4 linked regions of the Homo sapiens genome follow. The protein of the gene in region 4 interacts with the protein of the main gene of each other region in a pairwise test. Each region holds a gene or a part of one and is shown on either strand. Other genes may lie near its edges.

Region 1 (7,034 bases), on a different chromosome or scaffold from region 4:
CCTGGAAGCTTCCTTTTTCACACTGACACACGGTGTCTCTGGTCGTGGTACAGGAACTTTTATTTGTTTGACCTGACAACAGAGCATAAGGTTTTGAGAATGTGTTTCCCTGACATGTCTGTCCACCCTTCCTCACCACCCCATCCCCTCCCACTCAGCTCAACTCAGTTCACCAAGGAGTTCTGAGGGCTGGTTTCTGCACCAGCACACTCGGGACTCATACAGGACACCCACCCTGTATGTAAGGACCAATACAAAAGGACCGTGATTCATTATTTATTATATCAGGTTAGGGGAAAAGCATTGTTTAGATGGCATGGTCAGTAGCAAGGGAGGCGCAAGGGCATCACCTGAGAGACTCTGCAAGGAGAGGGGCCCTTGGGGGACTTCCCAAAAGCCCCGGCCTTGCTGGGGAAGAGGAAGGGGCCTGAGAACCTGAAGGCTAAGTGAGGCCAAGCACCTTTCAGGAGCACAGAGCCCGGGAGGAGAGAGCCTGGCCACGGAGCAGACCTGTGCCACTGCTGGAACCCAGCCCTGTCCACTGGGCCAGGCCTCCTCTATGCTGTAATGATGCCCCCACCCGGCTGCAGGCAATAGTTTAGAAGATTTCCCAGCCTGGTGGCATGCATTACAGAAAAGATTTTGGCCAGGCGCAGTGGCTCACACCTGTAATCACAGCACTCTGGGAGGCTGAGGCAAGCGGATCACCTGAGGTCGGGAGTTCGAGACCAGCCTGGCCAACATGGAGAAACCCTGTCTCTACTAAAAACACAAAAAACTGGCTGGGCACGGTGGCTCATGCCTGTAAGCCCAGTACTTTGGGAGGCCGAGGTGGGTGGATCACGAGGTCAGGAGATCGAGACCATCCTGGCTAACACGGTGAAACCCCGTCTCTACTAAAAATACAAAAAAAAATTAGCCGGGTGTGGTGGCGGGCACCTGTAGTCATAGCTACTCAGGAGGCTGAGGCAGGAGAATGGCGTGAACTCAGGAGGCGGAGCTTGCAGTGAGCCGAGATCGCGCCACTGCACTCCAGCCTGGACAACAGAACGAGACTCCGTCTCCCAAAAAAAAAAAAAAAAAAAAAAAATTAGCTGGGTGTGGTGGTGCATGCCTGTGATCCCAGCTACTTAGGAGGCTGAGGTAGAAGAATCACTAAACCTGGGAGGCAGAGGTTGCAGTGAGCCAAGATCATGCCATTGCCCTCAAGCCTCAGCAACAAGAGTGAAACTGTCTTCAAAAAAATAAATAAATAAAAGAAAAGAAAAAAAAGATTTCTATTTTTTTTTTTTAATCAACTAGTCATAATCATGGAACAGGGCATGATGAAGACTACCAAGTTGGGCTAGAACTTGGTTCCCCGACTCACATCGGCTACAGCTCCCACCTCATCACTATGCACTCCACCTCTGGGCAAGGGGTCCACACATTCTGTACCTGATTTACAAACTGTACATAGCAGGCAAGAAGGCAAATTGTTGGAAGCAATGGTGTAATCCACACCCTCTGTGCACGGGTTACAGGCTCCAGTATATTCTGATCTATGAGATCCTGGGAAGGGAGAGAAAAGTTAATGAATGAGTCACCACAGAATTCCCAGAGGCTGACAATGGCTGGCAAATTTCTCTTTTGGCCCTCAGTGGAATCCAGACAGAGAAATCTGCTCTTCTTGGCTTGGTCTTGTCATCAATTCTGCATCTATTACACTATTACATACCTTTGACTGGCACTGCTGACAGAAATATAATACAAATCACATGCAAAATTCAAATTCTATGAAAGCCACATTAAAATAGTACAAAGAATGAGGTCAAATTAATTTTAACTATTTTTTAGCCTAAAAATATCCAAAACACTACATTTCAATATGTAATCAATATAAATATTTGAAATATTTTATCTTTTTTTGGCCAGGCACGGTGGCTCACGCCTGTAATCCCAGTACTTAGGGAGGCCAAGGCGGACGAATCACGAGGTCAGGAGATCGAGACCATCCTGGCTAACACAGTGAAACCCCATCTCTACTAAAAATACAAAAAATTAGCCGGGCGTGGTGGCAGGCACCTGTAATCCTAGCTACTCGGGAGGCTGAGGCAGGAGAATGGCGTGAACCCGGGAGGCAGAGCTTGCAGTGAGCTGAGACTGTGCCACTGAACTCCAGCCTGGGCGACAGAGCAAGACTCTGTCTCAAAAAAAAAAAAAAAAAAGAAAAGAAAAGAAAAGAAATATTTTATCTTTTTTAAAATTTTTTTTGGAGACAGAGTTTCACTCTTGTCACCCAGGCTGGAGGGCAATGGCGCGACCTTGGCTCACTGCAACCTCCACCTCCCAGGTTCAAGCGATTCTCCTGCCTCAGCCTCCTGAGTAGCTGGGATTACAGGCACCCACCACCACGCCCAGCTAATTTTTTGTATTCTTAGTTGACACGGTGTATCATCATATTGGCCAGGCTGGTCTCCAACTCCTGACCTCAGGTGATCCACCCTCCTCGGCTTCCCAAAGTGCTGGGATTACAGGCGTGAGCCACCATGCCACGCCCAGTCTACTTTTTTTTTTTTTTAACAATAAAATAAAATAACAAAATAAAATCCAACCTCATCTACATGTGATCTGCCCATGCTGGTCCACCTGACCTGTTTGCTGTCCACTCACTATGGTGGCCCCGTCTCTGCTCGGTATCCCCCAGCGCCTGCACCCTGGGACTGTCATTCCTAGGGAGGCTGCTCAGGAGCACCATTTCTGGCTCTCTGCACAACTATCCCTGTCCAGCTTTGGAGACTGGCCAAAATCACCATCCCCGAGAGGCCCCACCAACCTCGTCTCTGTCTCACTCATCACTTAATTTCTTCATGGTTCCTATCAGGAATTTCTGACTGTTATTTTGATCTGTGTGTCTTAATACTATCCCAGAGAAAAGGTTCCACGAGGGCAGGGCCTCTTATAATTATCCCATTAGCACGGTGCCTGACTGACAGAAATCATCCAACATGTCCCTATGGAATAAAGAACCAGAAAGTGCAGGAAACAGAAGTCTGGAAACACATAGAGATAAGGGCATGATAAAGGCATGATAAGCTAAGATATCAGTCTTAGCTTGTGCCTTCGGGCTAGCACTACAGACCCAGGATCCTGACCCACCTCCATAGATTCAGCTTCCAGATCTGTCCTAGTGCCAGGTCAGTCCCCATGAACTCAGGCTCCAGGCCCTTCCCTGTGGACCCAAGGATGAGACCCATCACAGCACCTGGCTGACATCTGCAGACCCAAGTACAAGGCCTATTCCAGTGCCAGTTCAGCCCTCATGGAGCCAGGCCTCAGGTCACCTCTCTGGATACTGGCTCTGACCACCCTTGAACCACACCACATGGCCTGCCCAGAATCTGTGAACAGGCTGACTGGTGAAGGGCGTTCCCTGACAAAGCCAGTCTGTAAATACTGGATTAAGTCCCTGCTTCTTCAAAGTGCACATTCCAACATATTGCCACAGGCTCCTGAGCAATCAGGGAACAGTGACGGCACCAAAGAAACAAAATGAAGCACAAGTAACCAACCCGAAAGGAATAGACATTTACAACAGCCTGACAAAGACTTGAAAACAGTCATCTTACAGAAGCTCAGTCAGCTACTAGAGAATATGGATAGACAACTAAGTCATGTCAGGAAAACAATACATGAACAAAATGAGTAGTTTAATATACACAGACAACATAATAAAGAAGAAAGCAGAAATTCTAAAATTAACAACAACACAATATCTGAACTAAGAAAATTCCACAGAGAATGTCAACAGCAGAGTTGATTAATCGGAAGAAAGAATCAGTGAGCTTGAAAACAGATCATTTGAAATTACCAAGTCACAGGAAGAAAAAAAAAATAAAGAATGAAAAAGAGGGAAGAAAGCCAACAGTACCAACGGTTACTGTGAAGCAAAACAATATATGCATTATGGTGGTCCAAGGAGCATCAGAGAAAGTGAAAGGAACAGAAAGTGTAATTAAAGAAATAATTAAAGAAAATGTCCCAAAACAGGATGGGAATGGACATCCACATTCATGAAGCCCAAAAAACCCCTAACAGATAAATATGAAGAGATCTTCACCAAGACACATCTTAAACAAATTCCCAAACATCAAAGGCAAAGAGAATTTTGAAACCAGCAAGAGACAAGCAATGTACAAAGGAACCCCTATAAAACTACCAAAGGCTTCTCAGCAGAAAACCTACAGGCCAGGAGAGAGTGGAATCATACAAAGTACAGAAAGGAAAAATTCCTTGCCAACCAAGAATACTACACCTGGCAAGCCTGTCCTTTAGAAATGCAGAGCAGTAAAGACTTTATCAGACAAAGAAAAAAAAAAACGGGGGGAGTTCATCTTTAGCATGTATTGCCTTACAAGAAATGTTAAAGAGAGTTATTCAATCTGAAAGAACAGAACACTAACTGGATACACAAAACCATGCGAAAATATAAAACTAGGTGGTTAAATACATGGTCAAGTTCAGAATATTCTAATACAATCATAATAGTGTACAAATTACTTACATCATTACTATAAAAGTTAAAAGCCCAATGTATTTTTTTAAATGATACTTAATACAATTTGTTAAGGAATACACAACATAAAAAGACGTAAATAATGACAAAACATAAAATAAGGCAGGAGAAGAAAAGGTGTCAAGTTTTTTATGAGATCAAAGATAAATTGTTATCAGTGTAAAATAAAGTTAGACATGAACCTAACTTACAAATTCAGTAGTGTTTTTATACACTGACAAGAAACTATCTGAAAAATCCCATTTATAATAGCTACAAAAAAAATGCTTAGGAATAAATTTAACCAAGGTGGTGGCTGTATTTTTTTCTAATTTGGTCTTGAGGTTTCTCTCTGTAGAGTGGCTATAAATTCTAGCCTTGCCCTGGGGGGGATCCAGGAGATTTCATCATGGATGTTCACAGGAAACTTATTTGTCCCGGTGGACTGTCTAATGCCTAATTGGGTGTTCATCTTGTACATGTCCCTTCCACAAGACAATTACTTTTACTAGCAGTAGACCTGGTGGCTCTTGTCTGACCTATGTCCAGTTTTAAGTTATCTCTACTCTTTAGGAGACAGCCACTCTTTAAGAGAGCCAAGATGGAGAAGGATGTTAGGTTCAGATGTGTCAATTAGGGAAAACACAGAGGAAGCAACACAACAAAACACAGGAAACACAGAAGTGGTGTATTACTTACAGACTCCAGAGAGAAGAGGATAGCACACTTTGCAGCACTTACGGGAAGTGGGGAGCTATCCAGTCCGAGGACACTAACCGGTGTGTGGGGAGCAAGAGACAGAGAGAGAGGACCCGTGGGACTACACCTTTATAAAGATCCATGGGCATTATACCCCAGGCTTTCCCACAGGGATTGTGGAAGACAACACCTGCAAAGAAGGTTCACACTGCTCTGCTGTGAACCATTAGGTTTTATTGTAGTCAGCTCCTGTGGGATGTGTTGGGTTTGGGGTCAGGGAGATGATGAACAAATGTGCTAGATCAAAAACAATTGAACAGGGAAAGGAATTATTAATTGGGCAAAAGATGCTGTGGTATGATTGGGTTTTAAACAACTTACATTGGGCCTAAAAATGGATGTCAAGGCAGCAACTCTTTTAAATAAATTTGTGACAGAGGTGGAAGATGTGAAAACTGTAAAATATTGATGAAAGAAACGGAAAGTAACAAAAATAAATGGAAAGACAGTACATGTTCATGGATTAGAAAACTCAATATTGCTTAATTGTTCATATGACCCAAAGTGATCTACAGATTCAATGCAATGCCTATTAAAATTCCAATGACATTTTTTACCAAAATAGACAAAATAAATCTAAAATGTGTATGGAACCACAAAAGACCTCAAATAGCCAAAGTGATCTTAAGCAAAACAAACAAAAAGAACAATGATGGAGGCATCATACTACCTGATTCTTAAATATATTACAAAGGTATAGTAATCAAAACTGAATAGTAATGGCATAAACGAAGATAAACTGATGGAATGAAATAGTGAACCCAGATATAAATCAATGCATTTACAGTCAACTGATTGTGACAGATACCAAGAACACAAAATGGGGAAAGGACAGCCTCTTCAATAAATGATGTAGAGGAAAGTAGATATTGACCTGCAGAAGAATGAAATAAGACCCTTATCTCACATCATATGTAAAAATCAACTCAACATGGACTAAAGATTAAACATAAGCCCTGAAATTGTAAAACTACTACAAGAAAACATAGGGGAAAATCTTCATGACGTTGGTGTGGGCATTGATTTCTTGGCTATGACCCCAAAAGCACAGGCAACAAAAGCAAAAATAGACAGATGAGATTATATCAGACTAGAAAGGTTTTGCACAACAAAGGAAACAATGAACAGAGTGACGAGACAACATACAGGATGAGAGATCAATATCCAAAAGATCCAAGATTTTGGTTAACATCCAAAATACACAGGAACTCAAACATCTCAATAGTATGCAATCAAATAATCCAATTAAAACGGACGCATGGGCAAGGGACCTGAAGAGACACTTCTAAAAAGAAGACATAGAAGTGGCCGACAGGTATATGAAAAAAATGCTCAACATCACTAATCAGGGAAATGCAAATCAAAACCACAATGAAATACCACTTCACACCTGTAAAAATGGCTATTACCAAAAAGACAAAAGATAACAAGTGTTGATGATGATGGGGAGAAAAAGGAACACTGGTACACTGTTGGTGGGAATGGAGATTAGTACATCCATTATGGAAAACAGTATGGAGGTTCCTCAAAAAACAAAACATAGAATAACTATATGATCCAGCAATCCCAGTATTGTGTATACATCCAAAGGAAATGACATCAGTATGTTAAAGAGGTATCTTCCCTCCCATGTGCATTGGAGCATTATTTACAATGGTCAAGACATTAATCAACCTAAGTGTCCATCGATGATGAAAAGGTAAAGAAAATGTAGTACATAGACACAATGGAATACTATTCA
Region 2 (6,923 bases), on a different chromosome or scaffold from region 4:
GGCAGTTTTGTTATTTTATTTTTCAACACCTTATCATGACCTTTATGCATTTGCGTTCCTATAAAAGTAGGAACCTTGCTGTGGTCATAAACTGAGAGAAGCAGTGGTGGAGGTGGGATGTAATCACCAATAAAGATTAGCTAAGTTTCTCTTGGCTATTTATGACTTTGTTAATTATAAATTTGTCTCAACACTTTTATTCTTTTTTAAAATTTTTTAAAATATGGAACACTTCAATTTGCATGTCATTGTTGTGCAGAGGCCATGCTAATCTTCCTTGTATTCTTCAATTTTAGTGTATGTGCTGCTGAAACAAGCTCTCAATACTTTTTTAAAAAACCTTGAGTATTATGTGTTGATAACTATTCTATTTCATGTGCGTTGGCTCATTAAATCTCTTTATTCAATGTCTCAACACTTTATTTATCCATTTATTAGCAAAAAGGTCTTGCTCTGTTGCCCTAGCTAGATCGTAGTGGCTTGATCATAGCTCACAGCAGCCTCAAACTTCTGGGCTCAAGCAATCCTTCTGCCTCAGCCTCCGAAGTAGCCGGGACCACAGGTGTGTGTCACCAGGCCTGGCTAATTACAAAAATAATTTTCTTTTTTAGATACGGGGTCTCATTATATTGCCCAGCTGGTCTTGAACTGCTGACCTCAATCTATCCTTCCGCCTCAATCCAAAGTGCTAGGATTACAGGCATGAGCCATTGCTCTGGCCTTTGTTTTGTTTTCAATGCCTGTAGGGAATTAGGTCAGTTCTTTACTAACAAAGCAAAGCATTATATGATCAAATTTTGAAAAATGAGAATTTTTGATCAAAATGCCTAATGGGTCTTTTTTAGTCTTTATTACACTGTTATTTCCACAGTGACTTGTAACTAGGTGCTTAATATAGATTCTGAAAGGCTGTCAATACATTTAAATTTGTATATAGTATTTCAGTTTACAAAGCATCGCGATATATATCTCATTTATCTGGTTCAGAATATGTAGTTTGAATACACAATTATATTACAGCACATTTTTCCTTTCAGTTCTATTTTATTTATTTTTTTGAGATGGAGTCTTGCTCTGTCGCCCAGGCTGGAGTGCAGTGGTGCGATCTCAGCTCACTGCAACCTTCGCCTCCCGGGTTCAAGAGATTCTCCTGCCTCAGCCTCCCGAGCAGCTGGCATTACAGGCACCTGCCACCACACCCGGCTAATTTTTGCATTTTTAGTAGAGACAGGGTTTCACCATGTTGGCCGAGCTGGTCTTGAACTCCTGACCTCAGGTGATCCACCCACCTCGGCCTCCCAGAGGGCTGGGATTACAGGCATGAGTCACCGTGCCCCGCCTCAGTTCTCTTTTAAAGGGAATCTGTATTTTCAAGAATTACACACATCATACTCAAATATAAATCTGACATTGACCTAAGTTTGAAGTAGTAATGGCCAAGATCTTTCAAGCAGCAGCAAACTAATCTTGTTTAAGAGGAGGTATTATAGAATCATAAGCACAGAGGTCCAATAATTAGACCACACAGTGCTTACAAAGGATAGCCTTAGAAAGGTTCAGGTGTTTAGGTAGAGCCCTTCTCCCCTTCTCAAACCATTAACAAAAATAAAAATAAACAAAACAAAACTTTTCCTTGCAGGAAAATTTCCGTGAACCTGTGGTTTTGGGGGCAAGGATGAGAGCAAGAGGCAAAAACTAGTTCAGAACCTAGACAACTAGTGGAGTCTGCAAACAAATCAAAACCAAGATAGGCATGGTTGGTGAGCATGTAAATTGGTATAGCCACTATGGAAGGCAGTATGGAGGCTCCTCAAAAAATTAAAAATAGAACTACAGTATAAACCATATAGTATATACCATATATATCATATATGCATATGTACCATATATACAATATATACGTATATACCATATATTCTGGGTATATATCCAAAGAAAATGAAATCAGTATGTCAAAGAGATATCTGCATCACCATGCTCATTGCAGCATTATTCATAATAGCCAAAGTATGGAATCACCTAAGAGTGAACTGATGGATAAAGAAAACGTGAAATGTAAAAATGTGGTATATGTATGTATATTTATATATATAATGAATACTATGCAGCCTTTAAAAAGAAGAAAATCCTGTCATTTGTGACAACATGGGTGAATTTATGCTAAGGGAAATAAGCTAGGCACAGAAACACAAATACTTCATGATCCCACTTATATGTAGAGTCAAAAAAAGTGGAACTCATAGAATGAGAGCAGAATAATGGCGGGATCTTGGCTCACTGCAACCTCTGCCTCCCAGGCTCAAGTGATCCTCCCATCTCAGCCTCTCAAGTAGCTGGGACTACAAGTGCCACTGTGCCTGGCTAATTTTTTTATTTTTTTGTAGAGATGGGGTCTCACTATGTTGCCTAGGCTGGACTCCAACTCCTGGGCTCAAGGGATCTGCCCGCCTCGGCCTCCCAAAGAGCTGGGATTACAGGCCTGAGCCACGACACCTGGCCGACCTTAAATATTCTTAGCACAAAATAAACATATACACACAAGCACACACGACTATGTGAGGTGATGGGTATGTTATCATTTCACAACATATACAACTATGAAAACATCACATGGTACACTGTAAATATATACAATTTTTATTTAAAGCTAGAAAAATTCTTTTAAAATAAACTAAAAAGGCAGTCCATAAGCTTCTGTTGAATGGATGAAAATCTCTACCATAAATAAAAACATAATATGCAAAGGTATTAATAAGATTTGGAAGAAAACCTAAGAGAGTATTAACAGTAGTGACTACTGGGGATCACCGAGATACAGGGTATTAGGGATGGAAGGTTTACTTTTCTCTTTTTTTTTTTGAGACGGAGTGTCGCTCTGTCGCCCAGGCTGGAGTGCAGTGGCACGATCTCGACTCACTGCAACTTCTGCCTCCTGAGTTCAAGTGATTCTCCTGCCTCAGCCTCCTGAGTAGCTGGGACTACAGGCGCCCGCCACCACGCCTGGTGAATTTTCTGTATTTTTAGTAGAGACGGGGTTTCACCGTGTTAGCCACGATGGTCTCGATCTCCTGACCTCGTGATCCGCCCGCCTCGGCCTCCCAAAGTGCTGGGATTACAGGCGTGAGCCACCGCGCCCGGCCGGAAGGTTCACTTTTCAATGGATCTTTGGGAAGTTTCAAAACATACATGCTCAACCTTTAAAAATTTCTCTAGGGGAAATCCCTTCTCCACATCCTATAGGTGTGCTTCCTTCTTCCTCTCCACACACTTCACTATCAAAACCTACATTACTTCCAACAGTCGACCCTCGAGGGAATAAGTCCCTGGTCCCCACGATCGGGACCAGCCAGTCCACACTGCCGACCCCTGAAAGGCGGTCTCAGCTGCTCGGTCAGCGAGAAAAAAAGCCGGCGAGGTCCTCGTCCTGCAGGCCACAGCGAAGACAAAAACCTCTGGTTACTGGCCTCAGGTGCAAGGCTGCTCCGCATTGGCAGCGCGGTACCATTCCTATTATTATTACGTAGTCTTGTTTCTTTCTGGGAGAAAGCACCTAGGGAGAGTTGGGCTGGCCCCGCAGGGCGCTCCGGGACACGCGTCCTCTGCAACGCCGCAGCCTGCGCCAGCGTTCGACCGGGACGACTCATCGAGGCCCGACTCGCATTTTCAGTTGTCAGATTCGCCACTTTTTGGTGTCAGAATTTAAAACAAAAATTCCAATTTCTCTATTTCAGAAGCTCTTTCTGTCCAGAAAAACACAAGCAGGAGAGACTTCAGGTTTTTGAATTATTCGTCTCTTCTGGCCTCCACGGTATCTACATCCAGTGAGCGGGGACCGTGAGTCGAAAGCGACGACGCGGATGCTCAGGCCACCGTTCCCGGCGCGCAGTCGCAGCTGACCCTCGCTCCCGCCCCCGCCTGGAGTCCGACGTGGAAGTTGCTGGCTGACTGGGCTTGCGAGGAAACCGCCTCGGAGCTGCAGCCGAAGGCCAAGGAATCACTGAAGATCGGCGAGGGAGGACAGGGGGTTCATCATGGGTGAGGGGTTCGAGAAGGGCACCTGGGCGCGCTCGAGGGAGCCGCGGCCGAGGGCTGGGGTGCAGAGGAGGAGAGGGGCCGGCCAGGATACCCTAGAGTAGCCAGCTCCTCAGGGGGCGGGTCGCGGAGGACTTGACTCACTTTGGATCTTCATCTGTAGGGGTGGATCCGGCCTCTCGCGTTCTCCTCCGTCCTCTCTCGGTTCCCCTTGATTCCTGCGGGGTCCAGGGACCCGGACAGCTTGGGGACGTCCGCAGAGCCTGGGTTCGAGTTCTTTACCCTTATCATGAAGTTTTCCCTCATCCCCAGCTCCACTTGCTGGGCAGAGTTGTTCTTGCGGAGGCTGGCAACGCGTCAGTCGCAGGTTCGCCGAGGTTTCTTGGTGAAAGATGAGCTGCGGCCCCAGAGTGGAAGCTTAATCATTCTCTTTACCAGGGGCGCTGGGACGGCGTCAGTTTGAAAAACCTGAGAGCAGGTGTTGCTTATGTTGTTTTATGGCCAGTTTGGCATTTGTCTGCTAATCTGCTGTAGCGTTTCATGTAATAATACGGGTATTTCTAGTCGGCAAATGAAACTTTATTCTTGGTTCTTGGCCCGCTGATTGAGGGAACTGCATTCTCACAAGCATCAGGTAACACCCTCGCCCCGCTAGAACCCAAGTGAGGGTGCACATTCTTTAACTCGTTTCTCACCCTCCAAATGAAGGTGCAGATTCTTTGGCTTGGTTAAATCCCTCCACAGTTTTCTGGGGAGCATACTTCTTGCTCCCAAGCATCACAGGCGCTGTCCTGTCTTCCATAACCGCCTTCAGTTTTGTTCCGCCTCTCTTCTACCTGTAAATGGTAGAAAGGACTTTGTCAAGTCACACCTATTCTGTTGAACTTTCCCAAGGTTCTCTAGCCCATGGTGTTGTTCATTTTTCAACTCGCAGCTCTTAGTTATGCCATGTCTTTGCCAAATAACAGTGTGGCATCACTTCTGATGTTAACTATTTTTTTTTGTATTAATGTAACTTGTTTTTAATCTTCTCTAATGGCTCTGGATGGGAAAAGGACTGTGCTTTTTATCCTACACAATACTTGGTGTACAGGAAGCTTTCTGGGAATATTTTGTGATGCATTGGATAGAGCTTTATTATTTTTAAAAGTGGGTTTTTTGTCAAAAATAGTTATTGTTTTCAGCTTTTTTCTCAATTTCTTGTACTAGCTATATTGCTTCGTGGAGAACTCTGATTGAAGTTGGTTATAGTGGTACTGCTGCTGTACAGTACTTTTCCTGTGCGAGGATTACATTGTCCCACTATCCTCCTTACTGGCCCCTTGGTTTTTAGGGGTAGTGAGGGGATCATGCTAAAATATTCCTATTCTGCTGATTAGAAAATGAGATTCCCAAAGGCCGCGGCCATATTTCTCTTATTATTTGGTTTATCTTCTGTGCCTGCATGACACAATAGTAACATAACTAAGGACATAGTAACATAACTAATTACTTGTTTGATATTGAATAATATATTTCATTGGGAGGAAAAATATGCACCTACGCATCCAGGAAATTATAATATTTAATTTGGTATTTAGCTCTCAAAGGACAAGGTTAGATGTTTTGTATACCTAGTTCACAAAATGACATTGTGTATGTTTTTTCTTTTATTATTTTTTAGGTGGCTTTTTCTCAAGTATATTTTCCAGTCTGTTTGGAACTCGGGAAATGAGAATTTTAATTTTGGGATTAGATGGAGCAGGAAAAACCACAATTTTGTACAGATTACAAGTGGGAGAAGTTGTTACTACTATACCTAGTAAGTGTTGGTATGATGAGCTAATTGTAGGGACTTTCTGGTCTCCATCCAACATAACTATTTCTTTCTTTCTTTTTTGTTTGTTTTAGTAGAGATCAGGTATCATCACTATGTTGTCCAAGCTGGTCTTAGACTCTTGGCCTCAAGTGATCCTCCTGCCTTGGCCTCCCAAAGTGCTGGGATTACAGGCATGAGCCACTATGCCAGGCCTATTTCTGAATAAATTAATTCATATAATAAAGTATTTGATAAAGTTTGTAAACTGCTAGTATGAACATAACATTGATAACACTTTTTCCATCAACTAAGAGGCAGCTTAGTGTAATTTAAGGACCCTTGTTCTGGTTTACGGCCGGGTTGGGCTGTTTATAGGTTTAAGTTACTAAATCTTACTGAGAGCCAGTATCTTTACTAATAAAATACATAAGATAACAAATACCCACTGGTTTTCAGGGGGAAATAAACAAAGTAGGTAAAAGTACCTTTTAAATCTGTGTAAAGAATTATATAAATGTTAAGTGATGTTACATGTGAAGTGCCTTTTTTTCCTGTATTTGTTACTATTTTAATTAAGATTAGTTTATCTTAGGTAATTATATTGATTACTTTTAAAGATCTGAGTTGCAGAGACTGAGTGTTGAAGTAATTTGGTACCTTAAAAATATCAAGAGAAGGCCGGGCACAGGAGCTCACGCCTGTAATGGCAGCACTTTGGGAGGCCAAGGCGGGTGGATCACCTGAGGTCGGGAGTTGGAGACCAGCCCAACCAACATGGAGAAACCCCATCTCTACTAAAAATACAAAATTAGCCAGGCGTGGTGGTGCATGCCTGTAATCCCAACTACTCGGAAGGCTGAGGCAGGAGAATCGCTTGAACCTGGGAGGCAGAGGTTGTGGCAGGCCAAGATTGCACCATTGCACTCCAGCCTGGGCAACAAGAGCAAAACTAGGTCTCAAAATATATATGTGTATATGTATATATTTATTAAGAGAAGAAATACCTCAATTTTAATCAATTATTACTGTCTTACAAAAATATTCTCCAACAGTCTTACTGACTATATGAGAATACTGTTGTTATTTATACTTT
Region 3 (7,477 bases), on a different chromosome or scaffold from region 4:
CTCAGTCTGGGGAGGGGCAGGCGAATGTCCCCCGGCTCCATCTTCCTCCCCTGTGTACTTCTCTGGGGCCATCGGGGGTCCCTGAACCCCCTCACAGGAGGGGCAGGCACCTTCTGCCTCTGGGGCTGATGCCAGCAGAGCTGGGCTTTCCACCCTTCGGCAGAAGAAGCGGGCGATGCTCTGAGAATCCTTGTGGGCCGCTGTGGCTAGGAGCTGCTGTTTCTTGCTAGCCCGGCCCTTGGCAAGGGAGCTGCCCCCAGAGGAACTTTTTGCCTTCTTCTCAGGGGAGGGCCCCCCATAGTGAGCGCTGCCTCCAGGGACCTCCCCTCTGGGCCCAGGGAGGGGCTCACTCCCATCCTCATCCAGGAGGCCACAGGGCCGGCTCGGGGGCTCGTGCTCGCCTCCCCGCTCGGGCTGGGGGGCTTGCTCCCTGATCCGAGTTGTCTCCATCAGTTCCGTGGCCGTCTGGAACGGGCAGGAGCCTTTGGGGAAACCAGCTCCCACCCGCTTGGGTTTGAGCTGTAAATGTGAGCAGGAGGAGAGGAGGTTCAGCCCACTAGGCCCCCTTGAGGGCACCGCTGGCTGGAGCAGTAACTCACATTGGGACGGGGCTCTCAGGAGTGTGGGAGGGAAGAGGCAGGCAGGACCCTGGTGGGGAGCCAGGCCTTGGCAAGAGGTGCACCCCTGAGGGCAGAGGGGAAGTGAAGCCTTTCCTGGTCACAGGTCTGGAGGCCACTGGGCCACAGCTCACCGAGTACACATGGGAGGCTGGTGGAATGTCATACTCATTGGGCTCCGGGGGCTCAGCTTGGGCACTGCAGCTCTTGGCACTGCCTCCCATGTCATAGGGCTGCCCATCCTTGGAGGCTCTGTGGATATCGGCCACCTGGGCAGGGATAGGCAGGGAGGCTGTGGCACCCGCCAGCTCCTCCTGACATGCCCCACCTAGCCCTCCTTTTCTACTAGGCACTACAAGTGGGTTTCTGTGGCCAGTGGCCACAGGCAACTGACCACTGGGCAAGTTTTAGGCCTCCCATCCTCACAGGGTTGGCTAGAAACATGTCCAGCCAGTGGAGAATGGAGCTCTACCCCCATAAACTGTCTCTGGGGTGGGCTGGGGAGGGTGAGTTCTGGGCTGCCTGAGCCCAGAGAGCTGGCAGACAGCTTCTGCGTCAGAGTATGGAGGGGCCCCTGCAACGACCCTGGGTCCGCCTGCACCAGGCCCACCTTCTTCAGCACGCTGGCCTTGTAGAGGTTGGCCACCTTGGCGTTCCGGAATGTCTCATGTTCCAGCTCCACGGCCTTGGCCCGGAGGTCAGCTCTGTGGGTGCAAGGTAACAGGCACAAGGTATCAGGTGGGCCTGGGCTTCTCCCTGCTGAGCTCTTGCGGGACTCCAGGCCTGGTGGGGTAGGCCTTGGGCACAGGGATTCTGATTAGGGCTCTCTGAGCACCCTGTGGCTTACTGTCCCTCAGCAGCTGCTGGTAGCACCTAAGTTGTAGCCATGCCTGGCCCTGGTGGGGTTGTAGGGGCAGTCCCCTGGAGTAGGAGAGGTACAATCTGGGGAGAGGTGGCCCAAACAGGCCAGGGTTGACAGGGTCCTGCAGTCTCCAAGGGAACGAGAGCTTGGAGTGCTCCTCAGCCCAGTGATCGTGGAACTCACTCATCAGCGGTACGTGTTGACTGGCGGTTGCTGCTCAGCGCCTCCTCCAGAAGCCGCAGGCAGTGCTCCCGTGCCTGGCACAGGACAGTGAGACTGGTCGCATGGCCTCGCGGCTGGGGGAGGGCCCCGGCGGGTGGCTGAGGAGCTGCCCGTCTCTTACCTTCACAGTCAGCCTGGGGATCCTCCTGCTAGAAGCCTCTTTCAGGGGACAGTTCTCATCTGTGGGGGGGGGGGGTGGTCCTTGGTCCTTTCGCTCCACCTTCTGCGCTCTGAGGTCCCCCACAGCCCGGATGAGAATCCTCCCTCCATGCCCCGGGAAGAGCCCACAAGCCTCCAGGAACATTTCTGTACTGACCTGGGGGTACAAATTCTTCTATCTTGGGGTCTTTGCCCTGGAGGACAACATGAAGGACCCATGAGGCGTCCTGCCCTGCCGCAGGACAGTCCCATCCAGCACCAGAGAAGGGGCTGAGAGGTGCGAGCAGGGGGCCACCAGGGGCCCCACACAGGCCACTGAGTGCCTCCCCTCACCTTGCGCAGCTGCATCTGCTTCTGATAGAAGAGGTTCCACTCCCGCTTGTGGGCCTCATCTCTGCCTTCATCCCCGCTGCCTCCAGAACCTTCGTCATACCTAGGGACAGGCCAGGCGTGAGTGGCCCTGGCCTGGGCTCTGCCCTCCCCATGTGTGCTGCTGCTAGAACGGCAATGTCCCTGATGTCCTACCAGCTCAAGGGGGGATTGCGGCATCGTGCCACCTCTGGTCTGGCCCTGGCGCCAAGGGAATGCCAGGCAATTCCAGCGGGTTGGAGCCCTGGCTTCTCGGCCCCTTACCTGCTGAAGTCCCCGTAGCCCTTGCGGCCTCCCTCATACAGCTCGGGGTCAAAGCCGTTCCCCTGGGAGGGCCCGATGCAGGTCTTGCTCCAGCTGCTGCTGCGCTCCAAGGCCTCCAGCCGCCTCCGCACGGCCGTGGGGTTCTGGCAGTGGTCGCAGCCTTTGGCGCAGGCAGGCAGCGCATCCCCGAAGTACTTGGCAATGGCGGCATGGCGGCACCTGGAGCAGGCAGCACCGCAGAGGTGAGGGGCGGAGAGCCCAGTCGGCCAGCGTCTGTTCACCCGAGCCTGAATCGCTAGCTGAGCGAGCACTGCCGCGTCCGGCACCATGCCGGGAGCCCCACACCCCTCATCTCATCCAAGCTGCACCAGGCATCGTTTGGCTCTCCCCACTACACAGATGAGGACGATAAGGTGAACCAACTTTCCCAAGGTCACGTAACACATGGGGGTCTCCCGGGAAGCAGGATGTGAACCCCACTCTGTCCAGTTACTCCTCTGCTCCTCCCCTCTGTCCTCTGGCAATGGGATGTAGATGCTGGCTCTGCCATGAAGGGTGTCTTTTGGGTGACACACTTCACCTCCTAAAGCCCATGCATTCCCGTCAGTAAGATGGTGCAGAAAGGCACAGCCCTCACGGACTGAGCGAAGATGGCTGAGGTGATGTCTGAAGTGCATTACAGTACAGTCATGCCCCATGGAATGACTGCACAGCCAATGGTGGTCCCCTACGATTCTAACACTGTATTTCTACTGTACTTTTTCTATGCTTATGTGTGCTTAGATATGTGAATACCACTGTGTTACAACTGCATACGGTACTCAGGACAGTAACGTGATGTACAGGTTTGTGGTCTAGGAGCAACAAGCTGTAGCGCATGGCCTGGGTGTGTAGGAGGCTGTGCCGCTTGATATTTTTTTCCTTCTCTTCCCTGGAATTGCTGTTTGATTTCCCTAAGTATACTCTGTGACCGCACAATGACAAGTTAAATTTCTCAAAACGTATTTGCATTGCTAAGGCAGGCACGGCTGTGTAGTAATATGTCCCATCATCAACCCGTGAGGGTGTCACAGGTGGGGCCTTTAGCCAGGGAGACGCAGCCTCGCCTGGAGTCCTCCTCTCGTCTTCCTCTGTCTCAACCCTGCTGCAGCCCTCCTGGGGTGAGCGGCCTCTGCCCATGCTGGGAGCAGGGAGCAGCCTCTGGCTGGCCCACGAGGCTCTGTCGCATCTCTGTTCCCTCTGCATGGGGGTGGCTGTCGACCCTTGGGGCAGCTGCAGAGGCCGCAAGAGGGGCCATAGCTCTCTCAGGCTCCTTATAAACAGCCATTCCTGCCACCAGGAACGTGGCACAGGGTAGGGAAGCCCAAGAGGAGATGCTGGAACACAGGCAGGGCTGTCTGGGGTGCCACATCCCAGGGACAAGAATAGCTGGCATTAACTGCTCTAACTAGAACTCCTCCCAGTGTGAGCACTGCTGCGGCTGCAAGAAGCCCTTTGAGGGGCTGCGACCCCAAGGCGCAGGCTCAAGGATGCAAGGCTGATTGCAACACCCCGGTAAGGAAGCAGGGCCTGGCTGACTTTCTTTTAGCTGAGTGAATGCAGCTCTGAAGCCTGACCTGGGCTGGGACAGCCGAGGCGGCCACCAGAGGGCGCTCCTGCCCCCACTCTGCTCCAATGAGTAAATGCAACAAATGGTTCATCCCCAGGAGTCCGTGCGCCCGCACAGCGGCCGCCTGTCCAGCCTCTGGGAGGCTCTGGCATCCGAGTGGTGTGACCACATGGCTGGCTTCCTCCCCCTGCCCTCCTCAGGCCCTGACTCACTGGGGTTTTGTGCTCGGACTCAAAGAGCTCCATTGACAGCGGGGCTGGGGTCGGTTTCTCTCCACACAGCCTAGCCTGCTGGGAGGCACAACCAGGCAAATGTCACAGGGCCCGGCCCCTGGACTCTGGAGCCCTGCCCTGACAGCTGGGCCAGGAGTGCGGTCACAGCCCCAGCAGAAGGCCCTCACCTCACAAGGAACATGAGGCGCCTTGCCGGGCGCGCAGGCCACTCCCAGGTCACTCAGGATTCCAAGTTCTCCCCCAAGACGCCTTCAGATGCTGAGCGGCACAAGGGCCTCCCCAGGGACTGGTTGCAAAGCCTCCTGCTCAGCTTGAGAGGGCCACCAGCTCCCCACTGTTTACTGTTGTTCCTGAGAGAGGCCAGAGGGAGGGACCAGCCAGGGAGTGGCCAGAGGGACAGAAGGGGTGGCCTTCCTGAGGGCAGGGTGGGTGCCCCAGACCTGAGAGCGCTGCAGGACTCCCCTCCACAGGCTCAGGTGGAGCCTCCCCAGGGTCCTCCTGGCCAGGAAGGCAGAGAGCCGACTTCTTTCTTCAGCTCCCAACCCAGGCCCAGCCCACGGCGTGGGAGTCGGGGAGAGGGAGAGGAGGAGGAAGGAGGAGGAGAGAGGGAGCTTGTCTTGTCCCTGAGCAGCGCTCTCAGGGCAGAGGTGAGGCACCGGGACATGAAGTTGGAGGACAAGTTCCCAAGCAGGGCTTCCTCGGGCTCCCCCTCGCGACGGTAATTTGACACTTGGATCTCCAGGACGACCAACAACAAAAAAGCCAGGCAGAGACAGCAGCTGGCTGTCAGCAGAGGAGCTGGGCTGAGGCGCCCAGGGGAGCAGCGGCGCCCACGAAGGAAGTACGAGGACAGCACGTGGAGGCTCCGCGCTGGGGCACTGCTGCTCAGCCCCCAACACCTGAGCTCCCAGGTGAGTGGCAATGGCCACAGAAGAAGGGGGGACAGGGAGGGAGCAGCAAGGGTCCCCTGCCCCCAGGGTGAAGGGCCACAGTCTACCATAAACACGGAGAGGTCTTCGGGGACATGCTGGGTCGCTTCCCTGCAGGGAAGTCAGCCAGCCTCCTGCACACACCTGCACTCTCCCTGCTGCTGGGACCCTGCACTAGGGGAGGGCTGGGGGCTCTGCTCAGAGCGCCTCCTGCTCCGCCTGCTGTGCAGCAGAGGGGCCCCGAGGGCCTGCTTATTCTGCAAGTTCATTTCAGCTCTTTTATTCAGGGGGCTTAAAAGAGGGATTTGGCTGTCCAGCTTGGGAGAGAATGGCTGCCGGCCTGCTGAGCCTCCCTTTTTCCCAGGATTAGGGCAGAGCCCTGTCGAGGTCAGCGCAGGGTCTGCCCAGCCAGCATGCGGCGCCCCCAGGATGCAGCAGGACTCTGCCCATCTGTGTCCTTTCAGGGGCTTGGCCCACTCACTGCTGGTGTTCTCAGCTCACGGCTCAGCCTGGGTCCTCCTCCCTGGGCCCATCTAGAACCCCATAAACTCCTAGATCTCCCTCTGGTGATGAGCCTTGAACACCAAACCAGGAACCTGGAGGACTGACTTTCAACTCAGGCTCAGGTGGGCAGAAGGTCACAGAAGTGAGGCTGGGAGGGACCACGCTGGCAACCGGGACCTCTGCTGTGCCACCGTGATGCACAGGCTGACATGACACCACCCCTAAGGAAGCAGGACCCGGCTGTTTGGTTCTTTGGGGAACACTGAGAGCAGCCCTCCTGGGCAGGGCCCGTGAGCCGAGGCTGCCTACTCCTCCTGCCGCCCTGTCCTCAAGCCAGCGTTAAAGCCACCACCCCCCATATGTTTTCCTCAAAGCAAACAAGCTGGCATCTAGTGAGAAACAAAAACAATGACCCAGGGAAATGTGGAAACCAAGGACTAGCCCAAGTGTTCTCAGCTCAGCAGAGGCTGGGGGCTTCGGCTGGGGCTGGTGTCTGGGGAGACAAGCTCCTGCGGTGTTGGGAGGCGCACAGTAGGGAAGAGTCAGGCCAGGTCGGGGTCGGGGCACAGCGGTGAGCCTGGAGACCCCAGTGGCTGTCACTCACAAGACGCCCCAGGCAGGCAGGTGGGGATCCCTGTCCTGCATCCACAGGACACGAGTGGACAGGGTCTCTCCAACACAGTCCCTGAACCAGGACGGAGGGTGAATGAACAGCCAGCTTCTGTAGCTGCAGAAAGAGCGCCTACTGTTTCTAACACCAGCAGCAGAAAGCGCTTCCTCCCGCCCTGGGTGGCTACAGGAGCAGGGCCTGCCAGGGGTTCAAGCACCACTTTCTACTTCCAGTTGGAGCCAGGGCAAAAAGGGGAGTCACCCAAAGGCTCAGTGCCACAAATAGGGGCATCCCCCCCGGCTGCTCAGGCACAGGACCCTGCAAATCTCCCACAAGTGTCAGTTATGCCTCCTTCTAGGTGGACCTCAAACGAGATAATGCCCAACAGGGCAAGGGTGACTAAAACCCACCATGACGAAACAACAGGGCAGAGCAAGCAGCCCTCTGGGGCCCCGCGCTGCCAACACACCTCGCTTATCAGTCTCAAACACGCCGCCTGCTGCCAGCCCTTCCTCGTGAGGCGCCTGGGGTTGGAGTATCAGCTCTGCGAGGAGGAAACAGGGAAGCTTCGGGACCAAGTGGCAGCTGTCTGGCCTGCGGGATGCCTGCCTGTTGCAAGGCTCCGTGTGCCAGGAGATGCCACATAAAGGAATGCTTCCCATCCCTCCGGCTCTGCCAGCCTTCTCTGCCCTGAGTGTTTCCCCTGTGCTGACCGCTACTGCAGCCAGGGCACACCCTCTGAAGGCTCCAAGCAGGGCTGGCTGGGCAGCCTGGGCAGCAGGAGGGCCTGGTGGCAGCTGGGCTACACTCCCTCTTAAGGCCAGAGGGAGCCACCACTTGCTCTGGCAGCCACTCAGGAACCCCTGAGGACCCTGAGAAGCCTCCAACCAAGGCACTACTGAGCGTGGGGTTGGGAGGGACTCTGGTTGCCCTGGTTCGCAGGTGGGCACTACCAAGCGTGGGGTTGGGAGGGACTGGTTGCCCTGGTTCGCAGGTGGGAAGTGTGGTTTTGGAAGGAGTTGGGTGAACCTGAGATAGAAAGACGGGAAAAATATGGGATCATCAGTAGCCCTCCTGGGCTTCCCTGCCTTCCTCCTGC
Region 4 (7,034 bases):
GCATCTTCCACTTTTAGTGTACTCGACAGATTATCTCTGAGAAGCTAGGCCGTGGCTCAAGAACTGTGGACCTTGAACTTGAAGCTCAGATTGATATATTAAGGGATAACAAGAAAAAATATGAAAATATTTTAAAACTGGCTCAAACATTGTCGACCCAGCTTTTCCAGATGGTACATACCCAAAGGCAACTTGGAGATGCATTTGCTGACCTGAGTTTGAAGTCACTAGAACTTCATGTAAGATTATTCTAAATAACTATTAGGGATGGGAGAAAATGATAATAGAAGTATTCTAAGAGGTAATTTGTTATTGTGATTTGCTGAACTCTTAATGAAGATGGAATTCTGAGATTCTCTTTTAAGATATTTCATATCACTTTAAGAAGGCCCTCTTAAAGTGATATGACTTCTGTTAACTTTACTTTTTATGAATTATCATATGTATATAAATCTTTCATATTTTTCTTCCTGTTTGTTAATATTTTATTTTGCCTTTTACTCCTTAATCAATATCAAGGGTTACTGTTGTAATATGTTCTGTTAACTTTTTCTAAAAGTTGTAAAAATGTTGTTTTCTGTATTATTCTATTTCCAGTAACATTTATGTAGACTTCAGTGAAGTGTGTAACTTAGCTTGTGGAAATTTGGTGCCAAAAATCTTAAGCTGTCCTGCTTTTCATTTTAGTTTTTACATGCATTGATTGGTAATCTTTTTATGTGGTCCTTTATCTGCCAATATTTGCAACAAATCAAGGTCTATAATATTTTGAAGACTGAGTACAGAGTGGAGTTACATGGACATCTCTTAAATGGAAAATGGTTTTAGCATAATAAGGATAATTTTACTTTCCTGCTATTTTCTGAATTATTGAATACTTTGTCACCTAAGAAACGTAATTACAGCTATTGCAATAGCATTAAATTTGTATCTTCTAATATTTTAGTTAATTTAATATTACATTATTTGTTTCAACTGAAATTGAAAAGTGTTTTGTAACAAACTGGAGAATTATCAAATTAAATGATACATCTTAGAATATGTGATCGGTTTTTTATTTGGTTAGGTGCATCCTGATTAATCTGTTAATTAGTAAAACTTGCACTGGAAAGCTTTCACTGCTGAATATACAGAGCTAGAGTTAGTTCTTGCCATATCTGAAGGAGTCATGTGTAATGTTTACTGCACCAAGATGCAGTTTATTCAAAAAGAATGAACTAAAGCTGGTGTTGAGTGATCCTTCCTCAGTTGTGTGCCTAAATAGAGCTGAGCTTGGGAGTCAGCTAGTCACCAAGTTTACAAAGAAATATGTATTGTTAATATTTATACTTTGAGGAGAATCAGTCAAAACACAAAAAAAATGCACTTTGTTTTATGTCTGAAAGTTTTAACCAATTATTACCTAATTTGGCTGTGAAAGTTATAGTTTCTCTGATTAATAATCTGCTCTATTTTTCTTTCCAACAGCTGTGCTTATAGTATAATAGAAACAAAATGTAGAAATGAAAATATTGTTTCTACTACAAAGTAACTTAAAAAAATTATTTAGCTTTTAGGTATGTATCTGAGCTGATGACAATTTTGGTTTATTAGACTTTTTCAGTAATTATATGGCTAGCTGTGATTTCGATTCTTAAAGACGGAAAGGAAAAGTAAAACTGCTACAGCTAGATCTCTATCTAAATCACATATTTTCCCATTAGTGACGTGCTTGAGATTTTTAAGTCACTTTTACTGATTTATTACTGAATAAATTAAGGTGACTTCTTTGTTTTAGGAAGAATTTGGCTATAATGCCGATACCCAGAAACTGCTGGCTAAAAATGGAGAGACTCTTCTTGGGGCCATTAATTTTTTCATTGCTAGTGTGAACACTTTGGTGAATAAAACCATTGAAGATACATTAATGACTGTGAAACAGTATGAAAGTGCCAGGTAAGGTATACATTTTCACTGTGTTGTCTGTTTTACAGATGGCATATAATTCAGTTAATTTTTTGGTTACAAACAACAGAAACCAACTCTGGCCAATATGGGCAGGAAAAAAATGTACTGGAAAGTTATAGGATGCCTCTACAGACCTGGCAGAAAGGGAGAGAACAAGATTCTGGAAACAACCAAGAACCAAAGCCAAGTTAAGCCTCAGAAGAATCTAATTAGAACCCCTATGCTGGGTGCCTCTAGTACTTGATGCTGCCACAGCTACCATAAATAATTTCCTAAATACCCATGAATACTTGCTTCATTGCCTTGAGATTATCTAATTGAGCCTTGGTCATGTGCCCAAACCCTGCCTTCTAGTGAGTAGGGAAATGGAGGATCTCCCAGCTCTGGCTTCTTTAGAAGAGGACAGGGCCCTATGTTCTACCAGGTAGGTATTACATGGTCCTCTATACTCTCGCCTAAATTTACCTTTCATCCTTATTACCACTGCTTCCACAATAGCCAGACCCATACTTTCAGTTTCTATTGAATAAATAAGCTCATTTTGCCTCCATGATTTTTGTTTGTTAGGATATCAGTCATCTTCCATTTATCCAGATTATAACAAGCCTTCAAACCCTTTCAAATTTTACCTTTTATATAAATTAAATATTTGACTTGTATTTTGATAACTGTTCATAATGCAGTGTTTTTATACATCCTATTTTAATGGGTTTTTGTATATCCATATTCATATATATATGTATATATACAGTTTCCCTGTCTCATAACTATCCTGTTAAATGGTGAACAAAATATATATTAATAAATATATTAATAAATATTTTGAAGGGTCTAAAATATGGCAGACCTATAATAGCCTTTTTCACCTTTTGATTCCAGGCCCAATTTTTTCCCCATATGCCCTACCCCTTTTATTTAAGTATCATTCTAGTCCCTTTTGAGGTTTTTTTCTTTTGAGCACTCAAAATTCTTATTTTCCATTATACTTTTTATGCATAGTTGAAGATAAACTTTACCTTTTAGAAGGATAACTTTACTCTTTGGCCTCTTATCCTAGTTTAATGGTATGAGAAATACCTGTAAAAAACTCCAAACTCATCTAGTATTTTTGCAATTGAGTGCTTATTAAATATATATTTCCTTACACTTCAATTAAGTAAAAGCCCAAATCATTTTGAAAAGTTAATTTTTGATGTTTTCACAGGAAGAGATGCTTCTGTCCCATACCATGTTTATTTTGTCATTTTCCATTTAGTATTAAAGTATGAGATTCTTATTGACTTGAAAATGAAGGTCAAACAGCTGTGGTTGTATGGAGGGGTAAGGGTGAGGATAGCTGTTAGTAAGATAGCCTTCCGTGGAAATCTCTTCAATAACATTCTCAGTAATTGGTGTTTCAGTCTCAGTGTAAATCCTTTCATGGAAATTATATTTTTCAAAGGGTTCATTATGTATATGAATTTTAAAATTCATTTATATAAGTTTTACTTGATCCTTTTCTAAATTTTTCTGTTCCTTGTTCATAATGTCCTAATTTGTTCATAATGGTACTGTTTCTTTTATCTCTAATCATTTTAAATATTCATATTTTCTAGTCCTTCTGATTGTTTTAACATGTATGGGTTTTAAAGATGGATATTGTTTTCTTCCAAAAATACCCCCACCACCTCCTAGTTGAGAACTTTGTGAATCTAGTTTCTCTACTTTGCAATTGTCTACCTATCCTGAAATATATTTTCGTTAATAATAATCTCTTTCCCTTCAGCTTTTATTTCTAAACAGTTTATAATTAATTTGTAGAGGAGAAAACACTCTAGAGGTTAAATGGTTTGCTCACTTGTAGTCAATTTCAAAGGCAAAATAAGAACCCATTGGTTCTCTATGGTTCACATTTTATCAGTAGGCCTTATACCTGAGTATTAGTGCCCTAAGTATAATGTGGTATAAGATCTCAGATTATAAAATACAGTATATAGGTTCATTTGGAACTTTTGAACAAAATTATAAATCAAGTTACATGTACTTGGTGGCTGGTTTCTTAAGGGAAACCCTTACACAGCCTCTGTGTGTACTTTAAAAAACAACAACAGTAATGTTGTTTTTGTTTTATGTCATCCCGTAATTTATCCTTTTTTATTCAAATTACAATGTATGATCTTATTCATTAAGCTTAGCTTGGGGTTTGACTTTTCTGTTGTTTATGAAATAGCTGTGGAATTGGCTAGTTGTTAACACTAAAACCTTGCCTACTGATGGATAATAGTCAAAAAGAATCCAAGGTTAAAAGTTTTTCAGTAGCTGAATTTCCTTCTCTGTCAAAGCCAGAATTTACTGACTTTTAGGGCAAGGGTCATCTATTTGATCAGTGCAAAAAGTGGTAATTTAGGCAAATGCCCGAGTGGCCTTTTAATCCTCCCTATTATGCATTGTGTACAAGTATTTCCTAGCCCTCTGGTGCTTCATGTATAGAAAATCTTGTAACAGCCCATTCAACACTTCTCCACAGCAGCACCAACAAGGGAGTCAATTGTGGTCGAGACTTTTCAGATGTGGACACCTGTTCTCTAGAAGTTTTACATAAGCCATAAAGTAACCGTCACTAACTTTGTTGATACGGACTCAGTTCAGACGGGCAACCTTGAAGTGAAGTTGCTTTTTGAAAACTTAGTGAGCTTCTCTTCTTGGTGGTAATGAGCACTGTTAGAGAAGCTATTATGGAAAGTTTTACTTTGGTACCACCTACAAACTCTGAATGTAAAATTAAGAAATATAAGGTCAGTATTATAACTTTGAATATGTTTGAGTTAATCACTGTTGTTTAGAAATGCGCTCCAAGGCTATTGAAGGATATTTGTCCTTAGATTAAATCACCATGTATTACTATTTATTTAGTTCTACTTTTTTCTCTTTTATTTCCTATTGTTTTTAGTGTGCTTGCTTCTAGATACCCCTCTTCTAATTTGGCCATAATAATAAGCATTCTAAAGGTATCAGTTATTACCAGGTATCCTGTGTGTTTTATCTATATGAAGTTTTTGTGGAGATTTTTGTTCACATTTATAGATTGAAAAACTGGAGCACAAAGAGATGAAATAACCAGCTCAAGAATAGAGCCAAAAGGCAGAGAGGTCATTCAGCTTGGCTCCTGAACCCATGGATTTAACTAACTAGTTATTATTGCCAAGTCAGTCTTGCCTCCTAAATCTTTTGTATTTGTCTCCTTAGCTCCAATGCCTTTGTCCTGATTCAGTGACTCATTTCTTATATGTCCATCGTTTTCTAATAGGTTTCCTTGCTCCTGATTTTTTAATCATTTATTCTATCCTCCATCTCTTACACTACCACCAGGGTCATCTTTCTATCCTGATACAATCATGTCATTTTTATGTCAGATCAACATTCTTCAGTGGCTTCCCATTACTTCTCCTACTGGATTAAATTTAAACACTTTAACATGGCCTGTAGGGCTGCTTACTTTCAATCCTGCCTGCCTGTCTAATGTTAATTCCTTCCATTGTCATGTTCCAGCTTCAGATTCTGACATACCGAATTCCCAAATGTGTCATTGTATCTTACAAATCTATGCCTTTGTCCATGCTATTCTCTTCAGAATCAGAGTATCCTACTGATTTCTGTATCCCAATTCACCTAGCCAGCTTTTACCATCCTTCAAATTTTAATTATAGTATTTTAATTCTGTCTGAGATACCTTTTCAGATATCTAATTAAATAATTATTCCTCTTGATTTCCATTATACCTTACCCTCATTTATGGTAGTTCTTATTATCTCATTTTGTTGTAATTGTTTACAAGGTTCTCTTCCTCTAGAATGCGAGCTTCTTGAGGATAAACATATCTGTTCATCTTTATAGCTCTACTTTCTAACACAGTGCCTGGAACGTGGAAAGTGCTCACTTGAGAATTGTTGAATGAATCAGTGTATCAGTGAATGAATGAATGGTTCTCTTTTGACCCTGAAAGAGGCCAATTAAATTAAATCTTAACTCATACTGCTAAATTCAGTATGAGTTAAGAATAAATTAGGATCAGTGTGAAGGACTGATGTATTCTTTCTCAAGTCATATATACAATATAGATTATGTTATTTAAAGTATTGTTAATTCCCAGAATAGGAGATGTGAATTATACACCTAATATCTCCAAATAAAGAGCTTTAGTTTTAGGGTATAAGCTTTGTGATTCTGATCTTGACTAAATTAGAGGTCACTTTGCTTCTTCTTTGCTGAGTACCGAATAGTTGAAGCTGCTGGATAAATCACTGTTTAATAAGCAAGATAGTACTATACTTAGACAGGCACTGTGATAGAGCTATTATGAGGAGTTATGGGATCTTGGAGTGATGACAGTGGTGGGGTAACTATTTGAGTTGATGGGGGGAGAATATCAGAGTGAGGCATCTTACAGAACACAGGATGGTAAGTGCTCTACAATAGATACTGTTGTTACATTCTGAATACTGATGTTACAGAAATTCATCTAGAGTTGTGTTGTCAAGTATAGTAGCCACACATGTCTGGTGAGCACTTGAAATGTGGCTAGTCTGAATTGAGATGGGATAGAAGTGTAAAATACACAGTGGATTTCAAAGACTCACTACCCACTCTCCAAATGTAAAGTACCTATGAATAATTCTGTTACATTGATTACATGCCACAATGATTAATATTTTAGATATATTGGGTAAAATGAAATATATTGATAACAGGTGAAATTAATTATTATTTCATTGTAACTACTAGAAAATTTTAAATTACATGTGTTACTCACATTACATTTTTGTTGTGCATTGCTAACCCAGACTTTTTTCAGAACCATTTACACTTCCGTTAGTTTTAGTATGCCATTCTAGAGTCTGCTGTCCTTACCTGCTTTGCCTAATCAGTACTAAGCAATTCACTTGGGGTATTTATTCTACCCTTGATCTTGTTTTGACATTTATTTTTTTTAACTGGTTTTTAGATTTTGGAAATTTTACTTGTCAGTTAATACTGTGCTTTGAGAGAAATAGTTAATGAGATTAACCAGCAGCTTTGTTCTTATTTAAATAGCTCTTTGTTTTTAAAGA

What was found.
Region 1: the proteins of ARFIP1 (region 4) and TNFRSF10D interact in binary tests that used the Homo sapiens proteins (3 or more experiments, as listed by UniProt).
Region 2: the proteins of ARFIP1 (region 4) and ARL1 interact in binary tests that used the Homo sapiens proteins (3 or more experiments, as listed by UniProt).
Region 3: the proteins of ARFIP1 (region 4) and SMIM5 interact in binary tests that used the Homo sapiens proteins (3 or more experiments, as listed by UniProt).

Annotation. Positions count from the first base shown.
Region 1 is NC_000008.11:23,147,001-23,154,034, forward strand, and holds part of TNFRSF10D (tumor necrosis factor receptor superfamily member 10D precursor), read right to left. Parts: intron 1,552-7,034; coding exon 1,438-1,551; intron 73-1,437; coding exon 1-72. UniProt on the Homo sapiens protein: Receptor for the cytotoxic ligand TRAIL. Contains a truncated death domain and hence is not capable of inducing apoptosis but protects against TRAIL-mediated apoptosis. Reports are contradictory with regards to its ability to induce the NF-kappa-B pathway.
Region 2 is NC_000012.12:101,404,754-101,411,676, reverse strand, and holds the start of ARL1 (ADP-ribosylation factor-like protein 1), read left to right. Parts: upstream 1-3,904; 5' UTR 3,905-4,031; coding exon 4,032-4,035; intron 4,036-5,695; coding exon 5,696-5,833; intron 5,834-6,923. UniProt on the Homo sapiens protein: GTP-binding protein that recruits several effectors, such as golgins, arfaptins and Arf-GEFs to the trans-Golgi network, and modulates their functions at the Golgi complex.
Region 3 is NC_000017.11:75,628,957-75,636,433, forward strand, and holds the start of SMIM5 (small integral membrane protein 5), read left to right. Parts: upstream 1-4,477; 5' UTR 4,478-4,502; coding exon of another isoform or gene 4,503-4,982; 5' UTR 4,983-5,077; coding exon of another isoform or gene 5,078-5,246; exon of another isoform or gene 5,247-7,477. Other genes in the region: RECQL5 (ATP-dependent DNA helicase Q5), read right to left, coding at 1-519, 752-886, 1,228-1,321, 1,663-1,736, 1,823-1,881, 2,018-2,054, 2,194-2,293, 2,494-2,712.
Region 4 is NC_000004.12:152,880,946-152,887,979, forward strand, and holds part of ARFIP1 (arfaptin-1), read left to right. Parts: intron 1-17; coding exon 18-239; intron 240-1,777; coding exon 1,778-1,935; intron 1,936-7,034. UniProt on the Homo sapiens protein: Plays a role in controlling biogenesis of secretory granules at the trans-Golgi network. Mechanistically, binds ARF-GTP at the neck of a growing secretory granule precursor and forms a protective scaffold.